3 separate regions of the Homo sapiens genome follow, and all the other regions are linked to region 1. The links come from fine-mapping of genetic effects on gene expression. A gene starts in region 1. Each other region holds a variant in brackets. All regions are shown on one strand. Distances are from middle to middle.

Region 1 (9,825 bases):
AAAGGCCTATCACCACCCCATCGCCATGACTCCATGCCTCCCTCCCGGCTCCAGCTACAGTGATCTTAAACTGTGCTTTCTTTGCCTTTCTGGAACTTTGTATCAGTCAGCTGTGTCCCCTGCCTGAACTGGGTTTCTTTTCCTCTTCTTCACCTGGTTAGTTTCCAGGCCTCATCATTCAGGTTAATTTAGCATCACTGCTTCCAGGAAGTCTTCCTGACTTCCATGCCTAGGTTATGGGCCTTCCCTGGGTGTTCCCATAGCACTCTGTACTTTCTTCACAACAGCACTTGCTTGTCTCCAAAGTCTACTTCCCAGTATTTGTGACCTTATGTTTTCCCCTCCCACACTGATTCTGGGCTGACCCTGTGAGTTGCTTTAACCAACAGAGTGCAGAAGTGATGCTATGCCAGTTCCTGCCAGCTTCCACTTGTGTACTTTTGGAAGCTCTGAGCCACTGTGTAAGAAGTTCAGCGACACAGCTGGAGAGGTCATGTGGCGCAGAGGGGACCTGAGACTACATGGAGAAAGAGGCCCAGCCTTTCCAATGCCCTACTTGAGTCTTCATATGACTGCCATCTGACTACAACCTCATGAGAGACCCCAAGTGAGACCAGCAGAATTGCCCAGCTGAGCCCAGTCAATTTGCAGAACTGTGAGAGATAATGATTGTTTTAAGCCACTCAATTTTGGGGTGTTTGTTATGCTGCAATAAGTAACTAAAACACCACTCTGTATTTTAATTGCTTACTGACTTTGTTTGCACTCCTAGGCTATTTTCTGTGAGGGCAAGGACCACATCCATGTTTTGTTTTGTTTTGTTTTAATTTTTCCTCAAGACAGAGTCTTGCTCTGTCGCCCAGGCTGGAGTGCAATGGTGCGATCTTAGCTTACTGCAACCTCTGCCTCCTGGGTTCAAGTGATTCTTCTGCCTCAGCCTCCCAAATGGCTGGGATTACAGATGCGCACCACCACGCCTAATTTTTTGTATTTTTTTTAGTAGAGATGGGGTTTCACCATGTTGGCCAGGCTGGTCTTGAACTCCTGGCCTCGTGAACCACCCACCTCGGCCTCCCAAAGAGCTGGGATTACAGGCGTGAGGCACTGCGCCCTGCCCACATCCATGTTTTAAAATTGTTATATACTTAGCATATCCTTTAGCACTAAATAAGCTGTCATATATTTGATTAATGCAAATTAAGAATGCCTACAAAAATGAAGGCAACAAGTATCTAGAATACTCACTGTAGTGACAGTACACAAAGTACACAATGGCATGTGTAGTCATCATGAAAGGTGATTAACTGGACAGCAGGCAATAGGTTCCCAGTGTCAGTTTACCTTTGTGGAGGATTGAGTCAACTTGAGGGACTGTGTAGAGGGACTGAGCCACAATCCAAAACCACAGAGTTTGGGGTCTGGCAGTTGAGGCAGCTGCCATTCAACCAACAGCACTCCCGTGAGCTGCACTCAACAGGTGATCTGCTGTGGGCTCCAGCCACCCTCGCCATCTACCCTCACACAAGTGGTCTGATGTTTCTGTTTATGGGGACAAGAGATGCCATAATGCCATTCTATACATGGGGGCAGATGTCCTAGTCTCTCCTTCAAAACTTTTCAACTAGCTTCAAACAGGGAGGGCCCTCAATGAATGTTTGTATCTGCAATGAATACATTTCCACTCAAATCAGTAAATCCCCTGGCTGGGGTCTGGTACCCTTGGCTGTAATAATCATTAGTACAAGATGTTCTGTCAACAGGGATTGTTTGGACATATTCTTTGGGCTGACAATTTATGTCAAGCCCTATGTGGGACACGGAATAGGGAAATGCTATTCCTGTCCTGAAAGGAGAGAACTGGGAAGGCTAGAGTTACACAAATGAGATAAATACCAAGACAGCATATAATTACTGCTAAACTGTGTAGTAAGAAATTAAGTGCTATAGGAATTGGGAAAAGTAGGGAGCAGGGAGGGCTCAAACAGTTGAGGAGTCTACACTGAAGAGCTGGGATTGGGCTGAACCTTGAGAAATGACACAAACTATGGATAGTCTGAAAGGAAGGAGGGTACAAAAGACGCAGGAGGAAGAACACAGCCAAACCAGCATACTTGTTTGTTACTTTATTTTCGGGACAGCAACACAAGGAATGTGAAAGGTTGCCGTCCCAAATCCCGAAGCAAGGCTATTTCTGAATAGTTGTCCAACATTCAAACTTCTGGGCCTTTATTTATTGTTTCCTCCGCTTGCAATGCCTTTCTTCCTTCTCCACCTGGCAAGCTCTTATTCACATTTAAAGGCCCCGCTCAAATGCAACTACTTTTCTGAAGCCTTCCAAGGGATCCCACAATCCATTGTTCATGCTTCTATGGGAACCTAACCTATTACACTTGCCTGCTTACCTCCCCTACTAATATAATTAATAGCAACTTACACTTACTGGGCTTTTACTATGTGCCAGGAACTATGCTAAACATTTTTATTTATTTATTTTTTATTTTTTGAAGGGTATTCCCAAAACACCAAGTTAAACATTTTTAACATATTATTTTATTTAAACCTCACAACAATTGCATGAGGTATTTTCCCTATTTTACGGATGAAGCTCTTGAGACTTAGTGTGGTTAAGGAACCTGCACAAGATAACATACCTACGAAGTAAGCAAGCTGTGATTCCAACCCAGATTTGTGGGACTCCAAAGCCCACTACTAATCCACTGGACCGTGTTCCTGGAGGCCACAAATGCTCTTTCCTCAGCTGTCTTCTCAGATCCTAGAACGGGCTGATATATGGCTCAAAAGTTCTTTAACGGCCAGGCACGGTGGCTCAAGCCTGTAATCCCAGCACTTTGGAAGGCCAAGGCAGGAGGATCACCTGAGGTCCAGGAGTTCGAGACCAACCTGGCCAACATGGTGAAACCCTGTCTCTACTAAAAATACAAAAATTAGCAGGATGTGGTAGCAGGCGCCTGTAATCTCAGCTACTTGGGAGGCTGAGGCAAGAGAATCGCTTGAACCTGGGAGGCAGAGGTTGCAGTGAGCCGAGATCACACCATTGCACTCCAGCCTGGGCGACAGAGAATCCGTCTCAAAAGAAAAAAAAAAGTTGTCTAACATATTAATACAACTTTCAAGCCACATGCCTCGGTCTAAAAGTAGGTGCCCCCAGTACACTTTTACCCCAGGTAGCAACTTCCACTCACCTTAAAGTCACATACCTGGAGGAAGGGGATAGGGAGGAAATCTAAACATCTTATACTTGAATGTAAGCTCCGTTATTTCACGGATTCAAATGTGGTGAAAGGAACTATTTTTTTTTCCTTTTTTTTTTGAGATGGAGTCTCACTCTGTCGCCCAGGCGCGATCTCGGCTCACTGCAACCTCCCGTCTCCCGTGTTCAAGCAATTCTCCTGCCTCAGCCTCCAGAGTAGCTAGGATTACAGGCGCCCACCACCACGCGCAACTGATTTTTGTATTTTTAGTAGAGACAGGGTTTCACCATGTTGGCCAGGCTGGTCTCAAACTCCTGACCTCAGGTGATCCGCCCGCCTCGGCCTCCCAGAGTGCTGGGATTACAGGCGTGAGCCACCGGGACCAGACGGAACTATTCTTTTCCACAAAAGAACAAACACATACATAACTTTTGCCACGTCTGAAGACGAGGGTTCTAATAGGGCGCGGGTGGTGTCTCAGGTATTTTGAAAGGAGCTACCCAAGAATCTCAGCTTGTCAGGCCAGTCATTCCATTTGACCCTATCTGGCGCGTATTGGGGCCCCGACAAGGTAAGGGGTTGGCATGAAGCTGCACAGTGAGATAAAGCTGGACCGGAGCTAGAACCCAGAATCAAAGCCTTGCCCTGTGCGGTTTCTCATCGCCTACGCAGTCGGGCCCTGGCCTGGCATCTCCAGGCAGGTGGCCTTGGACGGAAGCCCGGCCTACTGGCTTCATTTGTGGGACCCCGGGGGTCCTCTCCTCCGCCCATGGAGCCTGGTTACTCCCACTTCCTCAAGCCTAGGGCCTGGAGAAGCCTTTCCTGGTTCGCGGCCTCACGGTCTGCAAGGTCCTCTTACTTCCCTGAAGCCGCTCCAGCCCCACTTCCCGAAGGTCCCGCTTCCGGGTGGCTCGCTTCGCCACCTGCGGTCCCCTGCCTCGGCTTGGGAACGCCAAGGACATCCCCCACGGAAGCCTGGGCCCACATCCCCATGCCCTTGCCGCACGTCACCGCCCCGCTGGCCCCGAATACGCCTCCGCCCTGCACTTCCTCTCTGCAGCGCCGTCTTTCCGGCCGGGCTCCCTTCTAATTGGCCAGCTCAGAGCTTCCTCGGGTACTCGGCCACTCGGGGCATCGCGGCGGCCTTTCTAGCCGCTGTCCCAAGGGTTGGTCTCGCGCTTTCGGCTGCGAGCTCTCTGTGGTGCTGGCAGCGACATGTGGCGCCTCCCGGGACTCCTGGGCCGAGGTAAGGGACGTCCAAGCAACCAGCGTCACTCTGGGCCGCAAAGACCGAACTGGAGTGGGGGCGGGCCCGAGGAAACAGCCGAAGCGATCGTGGGCCGGGTTAGAGCCAAGGAAGGCGGGGCTTGAAAGAGGGCGGGGAAGTCAGGGGCTGCTGGAATTTGAGATGTGGATGGGCCTAGCTAGAAGAGGGTGGAGTCCAAGAAGTTGGTAGGACTGTTGGGAGGGGGAGGAGTCCAATGGCAGGAGATGGTGGACTGAATGAATGAAAGAGGATTAGGGGCCAATGGAGTAGGCATAGCCAGTGAAGAGAGGAGAGGTTTAGAGTCAAAGAGCCCCAAACATTAGTGAGAGTATATGTATGAACGTTTGGTCATCTTAGAACAGTGGTTGGCATCCACAGGAGACCAGCAGAATCACATGGGCGCTTTTAAAAAACGTGGATGCTCTACCCTGAGAAATCTTAGTTTATTGGTTCTGGGGTACTACCCTAGAATCTGTAGTAGATAAAAGATTCCCATGTGTATCCATGTTTAAGAACCTCTGCTGAGGCAGATGACAGTGATTCCTGGGTTCTTGTTGAGGTGCCTGAGTTTTGGTTGTTCTGTACAGCTCTTCCCCGTACACTGGGACCTAGCCTCTGGAGGGTGACTCCTAAGTCCACCAGCCCAGATGGGCCTCAGACTACCTCCTCCACTTTGCTGGTTCCTGTGCCTAACCTCGACAGGTAAGATACTGCCATTTTACCACTCATTTCCTCCCCTAGTCACCCTTTTTTTTTATTTTTTTTTTTTTGTTGTTTTTTGAGATGGAGTCTCATTCTGTCGCCCAGGCTGGAGTGCAGTGGGGCAATCTCAGCTCACTGCAACCTCCGCCTCCCAGGTTCAAGCAGTTCTCTGCCTCAGCCTCCCGAGTAGCTGGGATTACAGGCACCCGTCACCACACCCTGCTAATTTTTATTTTATTTTATTTTTTTTGAGACAGAGTCTCGCTCTGTCGCCCAGGCTGGAGTGCAGTGGCGCGATCTTGGCTCACTGAAACCTCCGCCTCCTGGGTTCAAGCGATTCTGCTGCCTCAGCCTCCCAAGTAGCTGGGATTTCAGGCATGCACCATCACGCCTGGCTAATTTTTTTTGTATTTTTAGTAGAGACGGGGTTTCACCATGTTAGCCAGGATGGTCTTGATCTCCTGATCTCATGATCTGCCCGCCTCAGCCTCCCAAAGTGCTGGGATTACAGTGTGAGCCACTGTACCCAGCCAATTTTTATATTTTTAGTAGAGATGGGGTTTCACCATCTTGACCAGGCTGGTCTTGAACTCCTGACCTCGTGATCCACCCACCTCAGCCTCCCAAATTGTTGGGATTACAGGTGTGAGCCACCGCACCCAGTCCCTGGTCTCCCTTTGCCCCTACTTGATAGCCTCTTATTTCATCATCTAGGTCAGGTCCCCATGGCCCAGGCACGAGCGGGGGTCCAAGGTCCCATGGATGGAAGGATGCCTTCCAATGGATGTCTTCCCGTGTCTCCCCGAACACCCTATGGGATGCCATATCTTGGGTAAGGCTTCCCCAGCCTGGTCCTTGACCTTCAGTGTAGATGAGAATGATCCTTCATGGGTATACAGCCGAACCTGGAACAAGGGCTAGGGAATCACTGTGTCCATTTAACAAGTAACCCATGGTATTGGAGCATATTCAAGGAGATATTGCCACTTTCCACACCCCCGCCATGTATGTTTTCCTCATTTAATTCAGTAAACATTTATGTAACACCTTGTCTGGGCCAGGCATTTTTGCTAGTCACTACGGACATAGCAGAGAACAAGATAGATACATTCTTGCCTTCATGGATCTTACAATAAATAATAATACATTGCATCTTTTTTTTATTATTCATTTTTTTTATTTTTAAATTATTATTTTTTTCTGAGACAGAGTCTTTCTCTGTCGCCCAGGCTGAAGTGCAGCGGCATGATCTTGGCTCACTGCAACCTCCGTCTCCCGGGTTCAAGCAATTCTCCTGCTTCAGCCTCCCAAGTAGCTGGGATTACAGGCACGTGCCACCACGCCTGGATAATTTTTGTGTTTTTAGTAGAGACGGGGTTTCACCATTTTGGCCAGGATGGTCTCGAACTCCTGATCTCGTGACCCACCCACCGCGGCCTCCCAAAGTGCTGGGATTACAGCTGTGAGCCACCGCGCCCGGCCTTATAGCATTATTTATTAATGTAAAGTATTATACATGCATTATCTTGTGTAATCCTTACAAAAATCTTACAAGGGAAATATCACCTTCATTTTACAGCTGAGGAATCTCAGGCTCTGAAATATTAGGTAACATGCGTAGGGTCTCATACCTGTTAAGTGGAGGAGCCAGATTTAACTCTGGAGTTCATGTTCTACTGCTTGGTTGCTGCATCAAATACAGAGCCTAGCCCGTAATAGTTGCTCAAAAATATTTGTTGAACCTGATCTATAAGGTCAGATTCTTACTAGTGAACACTAGGTCTCATAGGGCAGAGTCTTCGCTTTTCAGGCAATGTTCCAGGTGGAAGTTCTGCTTATAAGATCTTCTGAATGAAGTTGACACACACATCACTCTCATGTTTGTCACAGCTCATCCCTGCTGCTTTCGTGCTGTGTACTTTGGACAAATGACTTGACCTGTGTGACCCTTGGCTTTCTCATCTGTAAATTGGTGTCATCAGCAGAGCTGAGCCTGGGATGTCTCCATGACAGGGTTACCCCTCTATGGGGAGCTGTGGACTAAGGCCATATCATACCCTGAAGAGAGGAGCATTTTCCCATGTTGCCAAAGAAGATCTGAGCCCTAGGGCTGTCCCATAGTGAGAAGTAGGAAGTGGGCCTGGATTCCAGAAGTCCCAATGCCATCCCTGTGCTCTGTCACTACTGCTCATATGAAAGGGTCTGCACGCAAGCTGTCCTCAGTACCATGGATACTTGTCTCTGTTCTTCACAATGCTGGTGCCTTTTCTTCTGGCCTTAGCCCACACGTCACCCCCACAGACAGGCTTTCCCTGACTCCTTGTCTTGTCAGGACCCCTTTTATGCTCTGTGTAACTCTCTGATTAGTTTCCTTCTTGGCATTTAACATCACTAGTAATTACTCTATTTCTCTCTGTAGTTGTGTTTTGTCTTTCTAAACACAAGATATAAACTTCATGAGGGCAGAAATTATGTCTGTCTTACTTGCTATTGTATGCAGTGCCTGGAGCAACAAGTAAGTATCTGGGTCAACCTGTGTGTTTTTTTTAGGCTGGAGCGCAGTGGTGCGATCCTGGCTCACTGCAACCTCTGCCTCCCAGGTTCAAGCAATTTTCATGCCTCAACCTCCGAGTAGTTGGGATTACAGGTGTGCCCCACCACGCCTGGCTAATTCTTGTATTTTTAGTGGAACAGAGTTTCTCCATGTTGGCTGGTCTTCAACTCCTGGCCTCAAGTGATCCACCTGCCTCAGCCTCCCAAGTGCTGGGATTACAGGCATGAGCCACTGCACCCGACCCTGGGTCAACCTTCTTAAGCATAACATAAGGAGAGACAGGAGACAGGGAAAACCAAGGAGTCTCTGGGATAAGAGCTAGCTCAGGTCTTCTGCAGACCTGTCAGAGAAGAAACACCTTTACAAAGCTTACACCTGGAGATGTGTGTGTGCTGGGGTGGCTTCACTGGGGGAATGGGAGTTGGTGGAAGGAGGGGTTGTGCAAGACTGGAAAGAGAGCCTAATGGGGAACTCTGACCTGTTGCTATATTTGCAACTAGGTGCCAACCTACCCCATTATCTTTTTGCCTGCTTAGTCTTCGCTTATTTAGTCACTTGATCAAGCATTTATTCAGGTTGTACTTATTAGGTCCCTACTATATATTAGCACTGTGCTGTACTTGGGCACCAGAGATACATTGGTGAGTAAAACACACATGGTCCCTGCCCATGTCGTGCTTATAGACTAACAGGAGAGACAGACCTTAGATAAATAAATGTAGAGATGATTGTTTAAATGCCAGTGTGGTCAGGGCTCCAGAGAAGTTAGGGTGTTGTGAAAGTTTGTAGTCGGGGAGCTGCCCCACCTGGATTTCCTGAGGAAGTGATGTTTGAGAATAAGGCCGGGTCTGATGGAGTTGATTGGTGAAGGACCGTGTCCTTAACGTGCTGTCTTTCCCAGGGCACTCTGGCCGTGCTGGCCCTGCAGCTGGCAAGGCAGATCCACTTCCAGGCATCCCTGCCAGCAGGACCTCAGCGGGTAGAACACTGCTCCTGGCACAGTCCCCTGGACCGTTTCTTCTCATCTCCCTTGTGGCACCCATGCTCCTGTGAGTTCTCAGTCCTGGGGACAGGAGGGCTGGGCTGGGCGTTTCTCTGGGCCAGGAAGCGTCTCTGGACACACCTCAGGAAAAGAGCCATCAGCAGCTCCTTGCCTTTCCTATCTGAAGTCAGAGGAAGAGGAATGTGGGGAAGTTCTATCCACCCAGGGCATGGGCCACACCTGCCCCTCAGTGTCTTTCCATTTCCTCCCATCACCTCCAACCAAGGGAGGCCCACAGGGTCCAGACTACTTTAGATTCTGGGTGTGGCTTCCTGGCCCACATTCAACCAGTTAAATTATTCTCTGGTCAGTCACTCAGTCATTCATAAATAAATGAATCTTTATTGAGCACCTATTATGTGCCATGGTGCAGAAGCAACATAGCCTAGTGGTTGAGGCTCTGGAGTCAGATTATAGAGGTTCAAGTCCCAAAATTGCTGCATACTAGTCTTATGTCCCTGAACAAGTCACTTTTAACTTCCTTCTGCCTCGGTTTCTTTATCTATAAATTGGGGTAATAATAAAACCCACCCCATAGGTTTCTTGGGAGGACTAAATGAGTTAATACATGTCAAGGACTTAGGGCAGTGCCTGACACATAGTAAGTGTGTAGTAATTATTAGTTTAAGCATTAGTTCTTGTCCTTATTATGATGATAATCATTAGCAATATTGCTATCAAAGAAAGTGCTAGGTACTGGGGCTACAACAGTGAGTAAGGTAGATGCCTCCCTGCCACTGAAGAATTTAGGCAGAGGAGTGATTGATGCTTAGGGTGGGAGATCAGCACAAATACAGGCCCCTCTAGACTCCTCTGGAGGGAAGCCAAGGAAACAGAGGAGGAGGAGTGTGAAGGAAGTGTCACAGGAGTTTCAAAATTCTTCCTATGGCCTCTAAAACCTCAGGGAGGACTCAGTCAAGCCCGAGCAGCCTGCACTGATCCTCTTCTGACCTGATCACTCTTTTTTTTTCTTTTGAGACACAGTCTTGCTCTGTCACCCAGGCTGGAGTGCAGTGGTGTGATCTTGGCTCACTGCAACCTCCGCCTC
Region 2 (9,825 bases), 26 kb after region 1:
CACTGGTGGCCAAGTCTAAACTGAGGGTCCTCCCGCAGACCGAGAGCCGCCGCAGCGCCTCGGAGGCGGCCTCCACGGGCATGCTGGAGCGCTGTTCCAGCAGCATCTCCAGCAGTGAGCTCATCTCCGAGACAAAGGTGCTGGCCAGCCTCGTGCCTGTTGGGCTCAGCTCTGGTGCCTCTGCCTTGCCGAACGTCTGGAAGGTCCTTGGCTCCTCCGTGGCTGCAGCATCCGGGGAGATCACATTGTCACGGTAGTTGGTGGTGAGGGGCAAAGAGAGTCTCGCCATCCAGGCCGGGTCAGGGGCGCTCAGCCGGTCCAGGGCCAGACCTGTGGGGGAAGGAGGGGACACAGTGAGGGCCAGGCTCCGGGAAGGGCCAGGCGGGTGAGGGTGGGGCAATGAGCAGGGCAAGGGCAGTGGACAAAGGAGGGAAGGGAAATGGCAGGGGACAGACAGAGTGGCCAGACGGGGACAGGAAGGAAGAGGCCCTGACAGGGAAGCTCCCTGGGTAGGAAAGCAGTCGACTGACACACCCGGGCGAACCAAGTGGGGAAGCAGCAGGAGGAGGAGAAGGCCTAGAAGTAGAAATTTGCCGATTTCTGAAGAATTTCCCAATCTGGGCGTGTGTTTCCAGTCTCAGTGTCTTCTATATTTCATCCAGGATTTTTACCCCTCAGGGCGCCTTCTCCCCTCAGGGCTCCACTAGCTGAGGATGGAGGGAAAATCCCTTTTCTTTGCCAAGGCTGGAGTTCCTGACTTAGCGCTGCCTTTTTTGGTTCCCATCCATAATAATAGGGACCACATATTAGGTACTTACGTGATGAGCAATTTACATAATTATTTCATTTAACTTCACAAACCTTTGAGGTCAAGAGTATTATTCCCATTTGATGGATGAGGAAACTGAAGCTGAAAGAAGTTAAGTCACACATCTGCTAGGCAACCAAACCTCAATTTGATGCCAGGTCTGATGACTTTGAAGCCTATGATGGCACCACCCTACCCTCTCTCTGAAGAGCTGGCCCTTCCTCCCCCTGGATACTCCAGGTGCCCAGCTGGGGCCTCTGGAATTCCCAGGCTACCTAAGGTCTGCACTGTTACCACCTGGCCCCAGATCCTCAAATCCTCCTCAACATCATCTCTCAAGCTGCTGGAACCCTGGCCTAGAGTCAGGCTGGGGAGGGGCTGCCTGTCCAAGGGCTGTCCCAGGAGAGGGACTGGGGTAGTGGCGGTGGCAAGTCAGCCTGGTGGCTGGGAATTCAAAAAACTGGCCCCTACATTTGCAATGCCACAGTCACCCTTCTTTTCCCATCCCTTTAACAGAAAATCCTGTTTCAAGAAACCAGTCCCAGGCCTGATGGTAGAGACCAAGCCAGAGGAAAGAAATTATAAGTCTTGGAGTTAAGAAACAGTGTCTTAAAAAAATTAAAAAAAAAAAAAAAAGCACAACATCTACTTAACATTTATCTAATGTTTGCCTAAGGTGAGTTACTTTAAAATCTGCGCACAGAATGAAAGACTGGAAGGAGATATGTCAAAATGTTAACTGAAATTACCTCTGGGCAGAAGCAATCCATTCTCTTTTTGTTTATCTATGTTTTTCTATATTAACCAAATATTACTTATGTAATTTGAACAAGTTATTCCGAAGTATGTGTAGTCATTTATTGTACTGATAAATGAATCTCTGCCCTGCATTCTGGACTGTGCAGCTTGTGAGACACTGTTGGGCTCCTGCCCTACTGGATCCTTGGGTTTAGCCCCATGCCTGGGACTTAGTGAATGTTTGTTGAATGATTGAATGAACATAAATATTAACCTTCAACATTTGGGAAATGCAAACCTTAGTTCCTTGAGACTCTGAGGCTATAAGGTTGGATGGAACTCTTGGTGTTATAGAATCAGGCCTTTCCTTTTACATGGGTCAGAGAGCTTCAGAAGGAGTGAAGCTTGGAATGAGAAAATCACTGGGGCGTATGAGAACAGCTGAAAAGTGATGCTGAATTCACCCAGCATCACCCACCAGTTCTAGCTGCAGGTGGGCACTGGGCCAACCTGGGTTTGATTTCCCAGCTTTGCAGCTTAGGGGCAGTGTGTGTGACCTTGGGAAAATGGCTTAACCTCTCTAAGCTCCCGTTTCCTCTTAGGAAGTGGTGAGACAGTAGTACGTATCTTGTGGAGTTGTTGTGAGGTTCAGTGAGTTCATGCAACCAGGAAAACATTATCATGGTCGCATTCTCAAGTGGGGCAATCTGAATCCGAAGCAGCAAATCTGAAGCAATCTGAAGCAGATCTGAAGCAGCAAGATCCCAGTCTCCCCATGGCAGTCCAGCCTGTGAGCAGCAAAGGCTTTTCTGCCCCTCCTCTTTCCTTACCCCCAACTCCTTACAGTGCCCCTGTGTTCAGTACCCTTTGTGCTGTGGGCAAGCAGGACCGTGTGGGAACTGACCCCACAGGTTCCAGCCAGAGCTGACCAATAGAGATAGAATCCAAAGCTATATCCCCCAGCCATACATAGCCAGTGAGCACTTGAAATGTGGCTGGTATGGCAGAACTGAATATTTTATTTTATTTAATTTTAATTCACTTAAATTTAAATAGCCACTTGTCGCTAGTGACTACCTCATTGAACAACACAGCTCTAAAATTTACAGCCACACTGCCTGTGTTAATAACCATCCACGAGCTGCACAACCTTGGGCAAATTATGAAACACCCCTGACCCTCACATTTTTCCTTTATGAAATGGGGATAATGAATAGCCCCTATCTCATAAGATTTTCTCATGAGGTACTTAGAACAGGGCCTAGCACATAGAAAGTGCCCAATAAACATTAGCAATATTTTTTAACCAAGGAAAGAGAAGTCCCTGCCATACCTTCAGTGTGTCTGCAGCCAGATGGAGCACATGAGAAACAGTGTTAACTACATAGATAGAAAACCACAGCACAGGGATGGTCTGCCGTGGGGTGTGTTACCAAAGGAGGCTGACCAATGTCCACAGCAGGGGCGGGGGGCGCTAGCAGATTCTTGAATTCAAGTTCACATTATGTATTTATTGTCAAAGCTAATTATTTCTCTGCAAAAAAATCTTTTTGTTTTCATTGCAATTGTTAGCATATTAAAGAGTTGACCTGGTTCCCAGGGTGAAAGGGTATTGAAACACACCAAACGCCAATGAGTGGTAAGAAGTCCATAGAGGACAGGCTGGCTCAGGGTTTGGCTCCCCTTCAATCACTGGTGAGCTGGGTGACTCTGGGAAGGCTACTTGATTTTTTTGAGCCTCGGTTTGCTCATCTGTAAATTCGAGGTAATAATTATCTACTTGAGGGGATTGGTTGGAGGCTTAAATGAGATCATGTACATAAGATGCTTCCCCAGTGCCTGGCATGTTCACTATTTTTACAATGATTTTTAAAATGAATAATCAACGTAGGCCAGGTGCCTACTTTGGCTTTGATTACAGGTGGCTCATGCCTCTAATGCCAGCACTTTGGGAGGCTGAGGTGGGTGGATTGCTTGAGCCCAGGAGTTGGAGACCAGCCTGGGCAACAGGTGAATCCCTGTCCCTACAAAAAAAAAAAAAAATCAAAAATTAGCGGGATGTGGTGGTGGTGCTCACCTGTAGTCCCAGCTACTTGGGAGGCTAAGGTGGGAGGATCACCTGAGCCCAGGAGGTCAATGCTGCAGTGAGCTGTGATCATGCTGTGATCATGCCACTGTACTCCAGCCTGGGTGACAGAGCAAGACCCTGTCTAAAAAAAAAAAAAATCAAAGTAGAACCTGGTCTTTAAAATACTTTCTGAGGCTGCAAGGGTGCAAGGGAAGTTAAATGTTGCTGATGTTCCTCCACAGAAACAGAATGGCTTTTCCCTGCAGTGGATTGGAGCAGAACTCTGAAGCTTGGACACCATGGGGCAGAAGCAGGGTCAAGGTAACTCCAGGGGGTCCCTACCTGTGCTGGGGTCCAGCAGACTTGACAGCTCTTCTTCTAGCAGTTGCTTCACAGAGAGGTCCTCTTCAGGATCCAAAGGCCCTTCCTCCTGTTCTGGGTCTGTCTGGCCTCCAGCCCTTGCACTTGGGCCATCTGTGTCTGGGATTGCACTCCTGCAAAAGAAACCAACCAGTCCATGGGTAGGGACATTCCCATATAGATTCATTCATTCATGCCCATTCATGTTTGCATTCATTTACCCATATAGGGAACTGGATACACAGCCTGGCCTCTAGAGTCAGACCAACCTGGATCATGTGATTCCCGCCCTCCTCTTACTCTGTTTCCTCATTTGTAAAATGAGAGTAATAAATAACACCCACCTCACAGGGTGTTGTGAGGGTAAAATGAGACGTTGTAGGTAGAGGGGCCTACCACAGAGCCTGGCACATTGTAAGCACTCAGCAGACAGAAGTGAAGATGAGTTCATTGATATCATTCTCGTTGCCCCTCCCATGTCTAGGTATTGCCTGGCACACAGGAGGAGTTTAGTAAACCTCAGTGGAGCCAGTGCAGCCGTCCATCCGTCCGTAGGAGAAGGCTGGGATTTTTGCCTGTCTCATTGCCTGCTCCCTTACTGATGCTCAGAACAGGGCGTGGCACACAGTGGGTGCTGAATGAGTGACTGAACATTCCTTCCTCCCTACTTTAGGCCAAATCCTAGGCCAGAAGAGCAGACCTATGGAGGGTGCAGCCGGAGTGAGGCAGCCTAAAGCTGCTCAGAATCTGCTACCTGCACCCCAGTCTCCTGCTGTCTCCATCCTGGTCCCTCTCTCCCATAGACACTTGGGGACAGGCCTGGACCCTCATCCCAGCAGGTGGGAAGGCTACCTGAGGGGTTTTAAGGCGTAGGAGTCCTTCTGTTTGTTTGGTTTTGTTCCCCTGTAGCCATTTCTGCTGCTGTGAAGAAATGAGCAGGGAGGTGGCAAGTGTGTGGGTGATAATGACAACTAATGTTTTTGAGCAGTGAGTCTGAGTCAGGCCTTATGCGATGCAAGGTCCATGCACCGTCTTATTCAAACCTTCCACACCTGTAAGGGGTTCTCTTTAATCAACCCATTGTACAAATGAGAAAACCAAGACTTGTGAAGATTTTGCAGGTTGCCCAAGGTCCCCATAGATTAAGAGATAAAGCAAGACTTCAAATCCAGGCCAGTGTGACCCTGGAGTGTGTGGACTCACCCCTGCAGTACACTACCTCTCACCATCCTTGTAAAAAGAAGCTGTAAGTTGTCAGGGCAAGAGCACTGATGCAGGAGTCAGGAACTCTGAGAGCTGGTCCCAGCTTTGCCACTCACTTGTTACATGACCTTTAGCAAAATTGCTTCAAGGGGAAAGGAGTTAGCATTGTGTGTGCACCTACTATGTGTCAGTTGCTGGGCTATGGGCTTAGAATACAATTGATTATGAAATCCTCACCCCATTACCACAAGGGAAATGGGATGGGTTCTGTTTTACAGATGGGGAAACCAAGGTCCTGAGAGATTATCTCACTTGCTCAAGTTTAC[A/G]TAGCTGGTTTGAATCAAGCTACTCAGAGCCTCAGTTTCTCCATCCGTAACAAGAAGTTGGATTTGATGTTCTCTTAAGGTGTCTTCAATTCTAGGATTGCCCAAAGGGACACGCCCACACAGCCATGTCTTTAGTGGGGAGCCTTCATATTATGTTTATGGGTCAAGAGAAAGAGAGGTGACAGTTACAGATATAAAGGCAATTTACAGCACCTCTGTAATTGGGACAAATACAGTCTCAGGGATGAGGTCATTTCCTTGGTGACTACTGTATTGATGGTATTTATCAATACAGCTAGTTAGTCCTACAGGACTTCTAGGTCCTGTAAATACTATCAATACAGTCACCTCACGACCAAAACTCCCAGGGTGGGAGGATGGATGCTGTCTGCTGCACCCTCCCAGGGGACCGGTGTCTGACTTGTGCTCACCCTTCCTCACTCACAGAGGCTGCAGTGATGAGGGGCGGCCAGTAGGGGCCTTGAGATGCCTGTGGGGGCTACGTGCTGCTTACCTGCTGCCTCCTGGCTTGGCCAAGTACTTATTTCCTCGGTGGTTTGGTTTGGGCTGGAATTGGCCCTGATGCAGCAAGGACAGCAGCTGGGAGATTTGCTACAAGACAGGAAAAATCTGTTGACTCCACACAATTCCGACTCAGCACACTTCCTCGCCGGATGTTTCCCTCAATGCCGGTGCTTTCTTTTTATAGTCTTTCCTCTGGCTTCAGATGTTTGTGTGATCAGATGGGGGATGGTGCCCAGTGACAGAGACAGGGACCTGGGCGGGCAGGTCCCCTGCTCTGTCATGTCACCCCAGGACCTGAGTGTCTGAAGGAGAGCAAGAGGACCCTCTGGGCCTGTCCCCTCATACTCATTCCTCCGAGTGTCCTGCACCTGGTGGACTCTGAGAGATGGGGTGAAAAAGGCATTTCCTGACCATCAATTTGTTGTTACTTTGATGAAGATTATCTTAAAGAGTTATGTTCCCCTTTAGCAGTATTTGGACATTCGGCCAATTTTTGTTGACCAGATGTAAGACTATGTTGTAGAGAAGGCAAAATGGTGTCATTGAATTATTCATTTATTCATCTTTTCATTCATTCAACAAGTACTTAATAAGTGCCAGGCAGGGTGGTTGCTATGGGAGTAAGAAGGAGAAGGAGCCCCAGCTGCTGCCCTCAGCGTGGTCACATCTGTCAGGATGTGAAGGTTGCAGGCAGCCCCACAGGGAGGCTGGCTGGAGATCAGGGCAGCGAAGAGTGTTTACCACAGGGGTTGCCTCTGGGCATAGGGAAAGAATGGGGGCTCTGTGGGAGCAGAGGGCCCCTAACCCAACTTGGAGCAGGGAGGAAGCAGGGGGGTGGTACTGGATTAAGTTAATTCATTCATTTCAACAGATGTTACTGAGTTCATACCACATGCCAGGCACCTCTGCTGAGACCCAAAGGCTCCATAGGAGTTTGGCAAGTGGAAAGAGAATGAAGGTCTGGGCAAGGGGTGGGGAGGTTTTCAGGCAGAAGCACTGCACACTGAAAGGCTGGAAGAGAAGGTAGAGTTTCAGAAAGACTGGAGAATGGAGTAGGGGATGGGTGAGATATCACGGCCAGACCCTATAGGCCATTGGAAGGGAGAGGCAACAGATCAAGTCCTGGGAGGCGGAGTTCTAGTTCAAGGCCATTTGTAGCTTATTGTATAGCATTAGACAGGTTTTTAGACCTCCTCAGACCTCAGTTTCCTCATCTCTAATAGGGGGCTAGAAATACCCACACGCCTTCTTCTCAGTGTTGTCACGATTAAATGGTTTGAAAAAGTTAAAAATCCTCTGCAAAAGCAAGGAGTTTGCACTGTTATTCCTAGAAACACTGCTTCCTCCTCCTGGGTCCATCCCCATTCCTCCCTTAGGAGGTCCACCATGCCCCTCTGTGCAGCTTGAGGTAGGAAGTGTCAACCTCAGAGGAGAGTTGGAAGAGGAGATGGCCAGGACTGGGGTTTCACTGTGACTTGGGAGACTCGGGGTCTTATTGCCTGCCTCAGGGAAGATCCCACCTCCCAGCCCAGGCCCAGAAGCCCTCCTAAGATACCTGCCACCCTTTGCTCAAGTGACAGCTGCCTTTTCATGACATGACTCCCTACATGCCAAGCCCTATGCTGAGCACTGTCATTCAGGGTCACTTCACAGTTACAGCCCAGACTCGAATCAGTCAGACTCAGGTTCAAATCCTAAATATGTCCCTGCCCCAGTTCCCATCAGTGTGGCCTTGAGGAATTACTTAAGCATTCTGAGAAAATTACTCAGTTTCCTCAACAGTAAAAAAAGTGCATATTAATGAGACCCAGGTCATATGGTGGGTTACGAGGTTTAAATGAGCTTATTAATAAATCCCATGATAAACAGTGATTGTCCAGTGGTGTATAATCTCATTTAATTCTTACAACAGCCTAAGGGAAGAGATACCATTATGGCCATTTTGCAGAGGTGGAATTGGAGGCTCACAGGGGCTACACAGAAATTAGTGGGAGGGCTGGAATTTACACTCAGATCTGACTCTATGTGCTGCTGGAAAGATATGAGCATTGGGCAAGTTGCCTGTTACCCTCAAGTTGATCCCAAATGGGCACCTTTCTTTCTGTCACCTCAGCGGGGTCACCCACAGGGCCTATTCTCTGTTGTCCTGTCTACCAGCAGCCAGCACAGTGTTCAGCACAGAGTTTATCCAAAAAGCACCTGATAAATGGATGGATGAATGGAAGGATAAATGAATGGTTGGCTCTGGCAGCCTCTGGGTCTGCACCGATCCCAGGGCAAGATTCCTAAGAGAACAGCTGGGCCATCTCCAGGTGGCTTCCTGAGGAGGGAATAGGGAAGGAAACTGTGTTTTGCTTCACAGGAAACCTGAGCTGATAGCCTGGCCAAACAGAAGTGTGCCTTGGGCGGGCAGCCTGGCACAGTGAAAATATCTGAGGTTCACAGAAGCAGATATGGGTGTGAGATCAGGCATCATCCCTGGAAAGGTTTCCCCACTTGTGTCTAGAAAATCCCAGGTCCTTAGACATTTTGACACTCATCATCCCATTTAGCCCTCACACTCTAAGGAGGCAGACACAGGGTAAGTTTGGTCTCATAATCCCCATTTTATAGATGAGGAAAATGAGGCTCAGATGTTGAAGGACGTGTACAAGGTTGCCCAGCTCCTAAGTGGCTGTGTTGAAATCTGAACTCCAATCTGCCTAACTGCTAAGTTCTAAGGTAATTTCCACTGCCCCATCCGCAGGCCCAGCCGGAAAGCTCTGGGGTCTCAGACAAATTATTTGCAACACCTGGGTTTGGGTGCAATGATGCCTATGCTGGCCTTCTTCATAGGGAAGTTGCCCAGATGAGATGAAGGCAGGCAAATAGTGGAGATGGAGAAGTGCTTTGAGGAAGTAATAGTAATAATTTGCTGAGTACTGACTACATGTCAGATGGACACTGTTCTACAGGCATTAAGAGCATTCACTCATTTTATTTTCAAGCAAACTTAGAAGATGGGTGGTGTTAACATAGACATCTTCAACAGAGATGTTAACTTCCTCTGTGGTTCAGAGCTAGGAAGAAGTGGAGCCAGGATTTGAACCCAGGTAACCTTGCCCAAAGCTTATACTCTTAATCACTACCTTTGCTGTGTGTCTACTTGTGAGGCACCATAAATGCCTTATAGGAATTAATTGATCAAATCCTCTGGACAACTCTACAAGGTAGATACTCTTACTATCATCTCTAATTTACAGATAAGACAACTAAGGCCCAGAGACAGTAAGGAATTTGCCTAGGATCACACAGCTAAGTTCAGCCGATCACAAAGCTGTGCCCTGAACCATTGCTACCCAAAGCATCAGAAAGTGCCAGGTGAGCCTAAGGAAGAAACATGAGGACTGTGCAGGTTATGGGGGTGTCTGATTCTGTTTCTGGTGGTCCAGGAGTGACCAGAGAAAGAGCTGCCCATGCCCCAGGTACCTGAACAGGAGGAGAATCCACAGTGAGCTCCTCCACGGGGTTCCGCTCGGCGAAGGCAGCCACAGACAGCCGGACCAGGCTCCGCAGGATCTGACGGGGCCCTGATTCTTTCTCAGGGGACACTTTGCCATTGAGATGTCGCTGCCGTCTCAGGGTTGCAGAGGAGGCTGGTGGCCTCTGTGGGGCTTCCTCACTGCCCTGGTCTCCAGCCAGCCTCCCTGTGGGGCTGCCTGCAACCTTCAGAGGCCTGGAACGTGGCTGGCCTGTGGCAGGCTGGGGCTCGGGAAGGTTCAGGTTCTCCCGGGAGGCATTCCTCTGCCTGGGATGGT
Region 3 (9,825 bases), 110 kb before region 1:
CTCCTCCGGGCGGGCCACCACGCTGGGACCTCGGCCCACAGCCCGGCTCCTCACGCGGCTCCTGTTTTATTAACCTGACTGTCGGGGCTCTCGCCACTGAATAGGGCCTGTCGCGGGGGCTAAGGGGGTGGGGGGGCCTGGGCTTTGCCGTAGATCACCATGGAAACGGCAGCCTCGGCCAATCAGTGGACAGGCAGCACCGAGTGCAGCAGGCAGCTTGGTCTCCGAAGCCTCGTGCAGCCGCAGGCTGACTCCTGCCTGACAGGCCTTCCACAGCCCCTGCGGTGGGAGAGGATAAGAGCGGGGACAAGACCCGAGGAGAGGGGGCAGACGCGCAGGAGTGGTGGGTAGTATGAGGCCAGGGGACACTGAGGGTTGGACTAGAAGATGGGAAGAGACTGGGGAAGGGGATCAGGGACTCCTGGGGTGGGGTTTTGGAGGAGCCCGGGGCAGGGGGCTGCATTTCTCCCCAGCTGCAGTTCTCTGCCTAAGCCAAGGTTTCTCAGCCTCAGCACTATTGACATTTGGGACCAGGTGCTTCTTTGTTGTGCGGGCTGTCCTGTGCACCGTAGATTGTTTAGTTGCATCCCTGGCCTCTACCCACTAGAAGCTAGCAGCATCCCCCCACCCCTAGTTGTGACAACCAATGTCCCCAGACATTGCCAAATGTCCCTTGGGGGGAAAAAACCACCCCTGGGTGAGAGCTACTGGTCCAGGCACTCATAGGGCAGTGGTCACTGTTTATGAAACGTGCTCTCTCTGAGCTGGCTTCTCTAGGGAAGAAGGAAGGAGGAAGAAGAAGATGAATAGGAGTGGGAGTGAAAGAGAAAGGAAGAGGAGGAGGAGCAGGAGGAGGGAGCCCAAGGCAGGGTTCCAGGTGGGTGGGAGAGCCTCTGGAAATAGGGATGTAGGAGAGAGACGCCCCAGGAGGGAGACATAGGGCTGCCATTTTGTGCTGCAAGAATGAAATAAAGTAAGGTTCCTAAATGCCTTTCCTCCTGGAGTTCCTTCTACCTGCTACAGCCCTTACCAACCCTGCTATAGAAATATTGTCTTTCCTTCAGGCCCATATCAGGCACCACATCCAAGAAGCCCTCCCTGATAATCTCAACACATTGAATTTTCTTTTTTTTTCGTTTTCTATTTTTTTTTTTTTTTAAGATGGAGTCTCACCCTGTCGCCAGGCTGGAGTGCAGTGGTGCAGTCTCAGCTCACTGCAACCTCTGCCTCCTGGGTTCAAGTGATTCTCCCACCTCAGCCTCCCCAAGTAGCTGGGATTACAGGCACCCACCATCATGCCCGGCTAATTTTTGTATTTTTAGTTGAGGCAGGGTTTCACCATGTTGGCCAGGCTGGTCTCAAACTCCTGACCTCAGGTGATAACGCCTGCCTCGGCCTCCCAAAGTGCTGGGATTACAGGCGTGAGCCACCATGCCCAGCCCTCCTTCTTTTTTTTTTTTGACAAGGTCTCACTCCATCACCCTGGCTGGAGTGCAGAGGCATGATCATGGCCTACTGCAGCCTCGACCTCCTGGGCTCAAGCAATCCTCCCACCTCAGCCTCCCGAGCAGCTGGGACCACAGGCACGTGCCATCATGTCCAGCTAATTTTTAAATTTTTTTGTAGAGACAGGATCTCTCTATGTCACCCAGGCTGGTCTTGAATTCCTGGACCCAAACTATCCTCCTGCCTTGGCCTCCCAAAGTTCTAGGAGGTGTGAGCCACCATGCCCAGCCCAGATTGAATTTTTATTTTCTCCAGGACTGCTCGTCACTTTGCTTCTACCTCCATGCTAGTACTCAGCACCTTGGTTCACCTACTAACAATAGTTCCCTTTAGTGAGGGTTTCCTGTGTGCCAGATGCTGCAGCAAAGGCCTTAAGCATGCTTTCTCATTTAATCCTCCTCACAGCTCCCTGCATCTCCAGTACTATTATCATTTTACAGATAAGGAAACTGAGACACAAATTAAGTAACTTGCACAAGGTCACTCACCCAGTTAGAAATAGTAAAGTGAGGATTCAAGCCCAGGTTTTCCTGACTTCGGTGCATGTGTTTTAAGCCTCTGTTAGTGTCCATCTCCCCCATTAGATTCAAAATCGCTGGCAATGCCTAGCACAGTGCTGGCGAGTAGTAGGCACTTGAGAGCTGTTTTGAATTGGCTGGTGGTCTCTGGAAAGGTCTGCCTGGGCAGCTGAGAAGGAGGGACTGAATTGGCAGTGCCAGGGTGTTGAGTGCCCTCTAAAGGCCCTCAGGTTTTGCTGGGGCCTGGATGAGCTGGGCCAACCTCATGAAAGGCAAATGCCACTGAGGCTACATCTCAGCCACACTACCTTACTGGGCCACCTTGGGTCTCTGGACTGACCTGTCCCTCAACCCCATGGATGCTGGGCCATGGCCCCCCCTAGTGGCCAGAGGGTCATGGTAGCGGTGGTGTGGGATGGGAGTGAGGGCAGCTGGAGATCTCACAAACAGCCCAGTGGGCTTCCTTCCCTCTGAGCCCTATTCCTAGGTTCCAAGCTCTCTGAGGAATTGGAGCCAGATGCCTCAGGAAACTGTCATTGTGGAGCCTGGCCCCTAACCGAGGCCTAGAGAATGAAGCAAACCCCCTTTTTCCCCATTACTCCCCTCCACCCAGTAAGAGCCCCTTTCCCTCCTGCCCCATTTGAAATGAAGGGGGTAGTGTTGGCAGACAACTTCCATCACAGCCCGCCTCCCACCAGGGTTGATTCCACCCCCATCCCTGCCTTACATTCCACAGAAAAGGGTTTGAGGCTGAGGGTTGTCTGACAGGAAGCATCGCATGATGCTGCTTCCCACCCAGGTTAAGGTTTTGATCTGGAATCCAGGAGCTAGAGTCCCAGGGGGCTTACATCAGAGCTGCTCCCCGACCCCAGACACGCATACACCACCCGCCTCCCCCAGGAGGCACCTCAGCTTTGAAGGCAGGGCTCCTGACAGGCTGCCGTTCCCATGGCAACCCCATCCCAGGCTGCCCTACCCAGCACTTCCTTCCACCCCCCTTCCTCCACCCTGAACCCGCATCACCTTCATTCATAGAACAAGAGCTGCTTCACATTGGCAAAGTGGACACCCCTTCCCCCAGTTCTCTCCCTTTTTTTCTTCCTCTTCTTATTCAATGGAGAACCCAAAACCAGAGAGAGAGAAATGGATGGCAAGAGTAGGACTAAGGTGGATGAGGGGTAGGACAGGAATGGGAAGGAGCCATGGCTCAGTGCCTTCTGCCAACCTGTGGACCCCCCAACTCCAAGGCTCCAGTGTCTACTCTCATTCCCAGATCTGTCTCAGTTCATGGATCTGTGCCTCTCCCAGCTCTATCTCTGTGGAGATCCAAGACCTAGCCAGGCTGTCTGATGGCCTTATGGCTCCAAGCATAGCAGGGCCAGGTCCCAGCCTCCAGGCCCAGGTCTCCAGCCACCAGCCAAACTGTAGCTCAGAGGCCAGGTGCAACAACTGGGCTCTGGAACTCAGCCTAGGAGTACTGAGGCTGCTCCTGTCCCTAACTCTGGTGCCCCTCCAGCATAAGACACTACCTTGCAGAGGTCACTGGGGAGTGAGGGGACTCTAATTTACAGTAGGATTGTGGGAAGGGCTAGAGGGGAGTCTCAGACTCCAGCCCTGGTTAAACAATGCAACTTCTCCTGCTGGGAGAAGGAAACTTGGCTTTTGGACCATTGGCAGGTGCTGTTGGAAAGTCAGGACAGGCATCAATCCCATCTCTGCAGGAGGTGCTGAGCAATGGTCAGCAACTCAGCTTCAGAATCAACCAGCCTGGATTTGAATTATCATGCCCTAATTTATTCACTGTGTGATGCCTACCTTCTCCAAGACTTGCTTTCCATATATGAAAAATGGAGATAGTAATTATATATAGGTATATGACCAATATTTATAAGCTCTACCACCCTTCCAGAGACAGTGCTTGAGATGTAATCTCGTTTAATCCTCATAACAGCCCAGTGAGGTAGATATTATTATTACTATATCTAGTTTATCCTACAGAGAGGAAACTGAGGCTCAGAGATGTTAAGGTGGTTAAGGTGACCCAGCTATGGGACTTTTTCTTTAACAGACAGGGTCTTGCTATGTTGCCCAGGCTGTTCTCGAACTCCTGGGCTCAATCAATCCTCCCGCCTCAGCCTCCCAAGAAGCTGGGACTACAGGTGTGCAGTACCACTGTGCCTGGCTAGGAGCAGAGCTTTTAATCCCAGGCCCTATAAGAGAATGTATGCACAGTGTCCAGCAGCTGCTAACTAACCAGTAAGTGAAGATTTTCTTATTAGTGAGGTTCTAGGCCCTACATTGGCCTCATCTCTCATTTCCCTCACTCTGGGGATATACAGCCTCCACTGGCAACCAAGATTGTGAACTTACTGGGTGAGAGTCAGGAAGGAGCCCAGGCTTGGTGAGATTGAGGATGTGGTATGGAAGGGACCTAATTTTGTGGCTGTGAGAGACCATCTCTAGCTGGCCCTTCAACTGTGGAAATAGAGCAAGAGGGTGAGGCCTCCGGGAGGCAGTGGCTTGTCCAAGGTTACCTGGTGAACAGACAGCTTCACTCCTCCTCAGCCCCCCAACCCAACCCTTTGGACAACACATCAAGGTCAGAAGCCTCTGAGGATTAGAATCTCTGGAGAAGGGTGGAGAGGTGTAGAGGGGAAGCAATATTTGTACTAAAGGGAGCTGTCCTGGAGCTCAAACCCACACAACCAGACTTGGAATCCTCACCTCCCTTAAGGCTCACCCCCAGCCCCTCCAGCTTCCATCCACCCCTTCCCCGAGCAGCCCCGCCCCTCGAAGAACCTCGGAACACTGGGGCCTAACCATCTCCCCCCATCCCCCATCTTGAGTGAATGTGCCGAACAAACAGCATTGTTCCCTACACAATGGACACAAAGAACTTGGGAATTCACA[G/A]AATGGTCCTGAATTTCTGCTTCCTTCCCCTCCAAGCCCTAGAGAGATCCATTGTCTGTAAACTCCACTTAAAATATGCACCATAGCTCCAGCTGGGGAGCCACTTAAGACTTGCGGAAGCTCCTCCTCCCACCCCCACCCGCTGCCTTCCCTCCTTCCTAGCCCTTTCAGAGCTAGGCAGAAAGGAGGGGGAGCAGCAGCCACCTAGAGTCCCTGATGGAGTCTGAAGCTGGGAACGACCCTGTCCACCCCCAAGTTCCTTAAGTCAGACGCTTATCTCACTGGGTCAGACCCAGCACCACTCAGCACCTGGGGCTCCCATTGTTACAGCTGCGTTGGGGTTGAAGGACCTGGTCAGCTGGTGGACTACTAATCACAGAACCTTGATGCTGACATGAAGACTCCCTGGGGCACCTCCCTCTATTCTCCTGTCTGCTTACAGACCCCCAAGGACAGGGAACTCACTACCTCCTAAGGCACCTGTTCTACCCCTGAAACTTCTCATTCTTATAAGACCTTCCTTAGAAGGAACCCCACCCACTTCTCCTTAACAACCCACTTCTTCACCTCCCTGCTCCTATGTTAACATGGTCTTCCTCTGCAATGTGACAGCCTCGCAGAATTTGAAGGCTGCCAATATATTTTGAATATACTGAATATATTGAATATATTGAACATAGAACACATTTGAAGGCTGTCAATATATTCCCCTGTATAAAGGGGATACAGATAAGTTACACAGGTAAGATAACAAGCCCTCAGGCTGGGAATGTGACTCATGCCTGTAACCGCAGCACTTTGGGAGGCCAAGGCAGGTGGATCACTTGAGGCTAGGAGTTCAAGGCCAGCCTGTCCAACATGGCGAGACTCTGTCTCTACTAAAAATACAAAAATTAGCTTTGTCGTGGTGGCGGGCACCTCTAGTCCCAGCTACTCTGGAGGCTGAAACATGAGAATTGCTTGAACCTGGGAGGCAGAAATTCCAGTGAGCCAAGATCGGGCCACTCTACTTCAGCCCAGGCAACAGAGCGAGTATGTCTCAAAAAACAAACAAAAAAATCTCAGATAACCAGCTTTCCCAGAGGGTTGTAATTCTGGTGGGAAGTCAGATACTAATATCAGATAAGATAATGCATAATTACTAAGTAAGATAAGAAGTTGACTATAGGAACTTGGTAATATGAAAGCATCTAACAAAGGAAACTGATCTAGTGTAGAAGGTAGAAGGGTGACCCACCGTAGGCTTCCTGAGAGCTAAAGAAAGTAGGATTTGGCCGGACACACTGGCTCATGCCTGTAATCCCAACACTTTGGGAGGCTGAGGTGGGTGGATCACCTGAGGTCATGGGTTCAAGACCACCCTGGCCAACATGGTGAAACCCCATCTCTACTAAAATACAAAAATTAGCCTGGCATGGTGACACATGCCTGTAGTCCCAGCTACTCAAGAGGCTGAGGCAGAAGAATCACTTGAACCTGGGAGGTGGAGGTTGTAGTGAACAGAGATTGTGCCACTGGACTCCAGCTTGGGTGACAGAGTGAGACTCCATCTCAAAAAAAAAAAAAGGCCAGGCACGGTGGCTCACGCCTGTAATCCCAGCACTTTGGGAGGCCAACGTGGGCAGATCACCTGAGGTCGGGAGTTTGAGACCAGCCTGACCAACATGGAGAAACCCCGTCTCTACTAAGAATGCAAAATTAGCCGAGTGTGATGGCACATGCCTGTAGTCCCAGCTACTCAGGAGTCTGAGGCAGGAGAATTGCTTGAACCCGGGAGGCAGAGGTTGCGGTGAGCCGAGATCGTGCCATTGCACTCCAGCCTGGGCAAGAAGAGAAGAGAGAGGAAAGAAGAGAGAGGGGAGGGGAGGGGAGGAGAGGGGAGGGGAGAGGAGAGGGAAGGAAAAAGAGAAAGAAAGAAAAAAAGAAAGAAAGAAAGAGAAGGAAGGAAGGAAAGAAAGAAAGAGAAAGAAAGAAAAAGAAAGAAAGAAAGAAAGAAAGAAAGAAAGAAAGAAAGAAAGAAAGAAAGAAAGAAAGAAAGAAAGAAAAAAGGATTTAATTCTGGAAAGAGGGGAGGAAACAGTATGCAGGGTGATGGGATCAGACTGTGCAAAGATCCTGTGGCAGGAGGGAATCCATCTTATTCAAGGACCTGAAGAAGCCAATGGGATTGGAGGCCAGTGGGTGGGGTTGTAAGACTGTAGGTCTCAGTGAGGAGGTTGGCATGATTCTAACAGCAATGGAAAGATACAAATGTGTACGTGCAATAAAAGCTGATTGACATTTGCCTCAGAATGACACAGATTCCTAGAGTCACTGGCCCAAAGCAATTCTTCCGAGCTTTTGCACTTGCTGTGCCCTCTGCCTGGAATGCTCTGTTTCCAGATTTTTTCTGAGGCTGATTTGTTCTCATCATTTAGGTCTTGACCCAAACCACTCGTCCTAAAGGAGCTCCCTCTACATGCACTGTTGCTCTCTATCCCTTTATCTTGTTTTATTATTTTTACAGCACTTTCACGATCTAAAACTAAATTGTTAATTTCTTTGCTTTACTGTTACTCTTTCCACTCGCTAGAAAAAAAGCTCAGTATGGGCAGGAATTTTGCCTTAGCGACTACCACATTCTAGCGTCGGCATTGTGCTAGCCCACAGTAGGGCCTCAATAAATAATAAATGAACAAATGAATGAATTACTGAATACACACCAAGATAAAAGGGCCAGTATTTACCCACAAACATACACATATAAATGTATGGTTATTCATGGGCAAGTGCATGAGTACCCACGGTGACTCAGAGATTTCCCTCGCCCACAAGGACCACCTCTCAAGGGGCCTTTTAGGCAATCCAGAGCCTGTACAGTTCATTGCCCTAGTCTAGCTAATCAATATACACCTCCTCTGGCTGGATGAGGACCTGCACAAGCAGACCTGTCTCAGGTCAGCCATTGGTTAATCAAAGACGAGGGTGGAATTTAAAGTGCCCTATGGAGGGGCAGTGAAAACAGATTGATCCATGTGGCCTGGACACAGTAAAACCCCTTACAGGCTCCATTTATTTCCCACCTCTCATCTCCCCTCTCCTCCTGGGGCCCCAGCCCATCTTCCACTGCTCCCCATTTCCCACTCTACTGGAAGTGGCTGAACCAGGCATTGTGTGGGACTCAGGACAAATAGATTAGAATTTAGTGGGGTTTTACAGGGTTTGGGAATTTGACTAGGTGGGCAATATTTTAAACAAGCATTTATTGTCTTAGCAAGTACCTACTAAGTGCAAAGCTTGGCTAGGGACTGCCAGATTCATTACATAATAGCTGATTCAGGGCAGACTGTGAAAAATGATTTAGTCAGAAACCCTAAAGGTGGAATCCCTGTGTTCCCAAGGTACATGTCAGAGTGGGACACAGTTAATTCCCAGTTGGGGAGCTCTGGGATAGCTTACTAGAGTATCATTCTAAATAACTACCACTTTAATAGAGCACTTACTGTGTAAGCACATTTTACATGTGACCTTTCTGATTTAATCCTCACTCTTAAGCCTCTGGGTATGTGTGATTGCTATTATTATCCCATTTACAGATGGGGAGACTAAGGCTCAGGGAGGATTAAGCGAGTTGCCCAAATTTTCCACAGCTATTAAGCGGCAGAGTAGATTTTCAAGCTCAAGAGGAGACGCCAGAGTCCCTGCTCTGGGACCCCACCATGACAATGGCTATAGCTGTGCCTTGACGCAAAGGTAGGACTTACTTAGGTGGGAAGATAGGAGAAGTCCATTCTAGGAAGAGGACACAGTTTGAGAAAAAGCTGATAGGCAACGGTGCCAGAAGTTTTTCTGTGTGTGTATGGATTTTGTTTGTTTGTTTGTTTGAGACTGAGTTTCGCTCTGTGGCCCAGGCTAGAGTGCAGTGGTGCGATCTCAGCTCGCTGTAACCTCCGCCTCCCAGGTTAAAACGATTCTCCTGCCTCAGCCTCCTGCGTAGCTGGGATTACAGGCATGCGCCACCATGCCCGGCTAATTTTTTGTATGTTTAATAGAGTCAGGGTTTCACCATGTTGGCCAGACTGGTCTCCAACTCTTGACCTCAAGTGATCCGTCCGCCTCGGCCTCCCAACGTGCTGGGATTACAGGCATGAGCCACCGCGCCCAGCCTAGATGTTTTTTAAAACTTTCTGGTAGCTGGTCAGGTGTGGTGACTCACACCTGTAATCCCAGCACTTTGGCAGGCTGAGGCAGGCGAATCACCTGAGGTCGGGAGTTTGAGACCAGCCTGGCCAACATGGAGAAACCCCGTCTCTACTAAAAATACAAAATTAGCCAGGCGTGGTGGCGCATGCCTGTAATCCCAGCTACTCGTGAGGCTGAGGCAGGAGAATCGTTTGAACCCGGGAGGCGGAGGTTGCGGTGAGCAGAGATTGCGCCATTGAACTCCAGCCTGGGCAACAAGAGCGAAACTTCGTCAAAAAAAAAAAAAAAAGAAAAATCTCTGGTAGCCTGAGGTCCTAGGAGATTTAAAACAACAACAACAAAAATAACAAAAACAAACAAAAAACAACTATTGCTGACTTTTTTCTCTATCTGGTCTTTAGGATATTAGCCCCAGGATGGATTCTTGCCCTGGGTGTGTCTTTCTCTAGTTCCCAAACAGAATTTTATCCAAAGGTGGATGATAGGGGGTGAGGGTGCAGTATTTTTGGTGAATTGGTCTTCTCCCTACCCTGGCTGGGATGGGGGCCACTTGGGGACACTTTCCAGGCCCAGCTGGTCCTCTGCCCATCTGCATCCCTGCCTCCTGACTCATTTCATTCCAACCAATAGAGTCTTAGCATGCAAATTTAATGAATAGGCAAAGAAATGATTGGCTCATTTTCCCTGATGTAATAATGCCACTATTCAA

Alleles and levels. Positions count from the first base shown, and alleles are read on the strand shown. Sizes are in standard deviations (SD) of each study's normalised expression. Not every link is listed here.
For the expression in testis of the gene that starts at base 4,357 in region 1, G is the low allele of the variant in region 2 and A is the other (small effect, 0.24 SD a copy in GTEx).

The links. PIP is the estimated chance that this variant, and not a neighbour inherited with it, causes the effect. A credible set is the group of variants that fine-mapping cannot tell apart.
Region 2: its variant is the best candidate, but not a certain one, in a credible set for the expression of DELE1 in testis (GTEx, PIP 0.79).
Region 3: its variant is the best candidate, but not a certain one, in a credible set for the expression of DELE1 in whole blood (INTERVAL, PIP 0.58).

The regions. Positions count from the first base shown.
Region 1 is chr5:141,919,515-141,929,339 of GRCh38, forward strand. It overlaps DELE1 (DAP3 binding cell death enhancer 1), which reads left to right and starts at 4,357. Exons shown (of 12, transcript NM_014773.5): 1 at 4,357-4,458; 2 at 5,067-5,181; 3 at 5,896-6,013; 4 at 8,637-8,784. The coding sequence starts at 4,428. RefSeq lists enhancers at 4,238-4,751, 9,807-9,825.
Region 2 is chr5:141,945,476-141,955,300 of GRCh38, forward strand. It overlaps PCDH12 (protocadherin 12), which reads right to left. Exons shown (of 4, transcript NM_016580.4): 1 at 9,497-9,825; 2 at 6,018-6,115; 3 at 3,957-4,108; 4 at 1-330. It also overlaps a transcript of RNF14 not described here. Among named protein-coding and RNA genes, the nearest start is that of PCDH12, 7.8 kb to the right of the region's middle. The variant A/G (reference allele first, on the strand shown) is at 5,504.
Region 3 is chr5:141,811,844-141,821,668 of GRCh38, forward strand. LOC107986454 (a long non-coding RNA gene) reads right to left here. Exons shown (of 3, transcript XR_001742906.2): 1 at 9,646-9,825. Among named protein-coding and RNA genes, the nearest start is that of PCDH1, 62 kb to the right of the region's middle. RefSeq lists enhancers at 107-755, 3,807-4,798, 4,799-5,789. The variant G/A (reference allele first, on the strand shown) is at 4,935.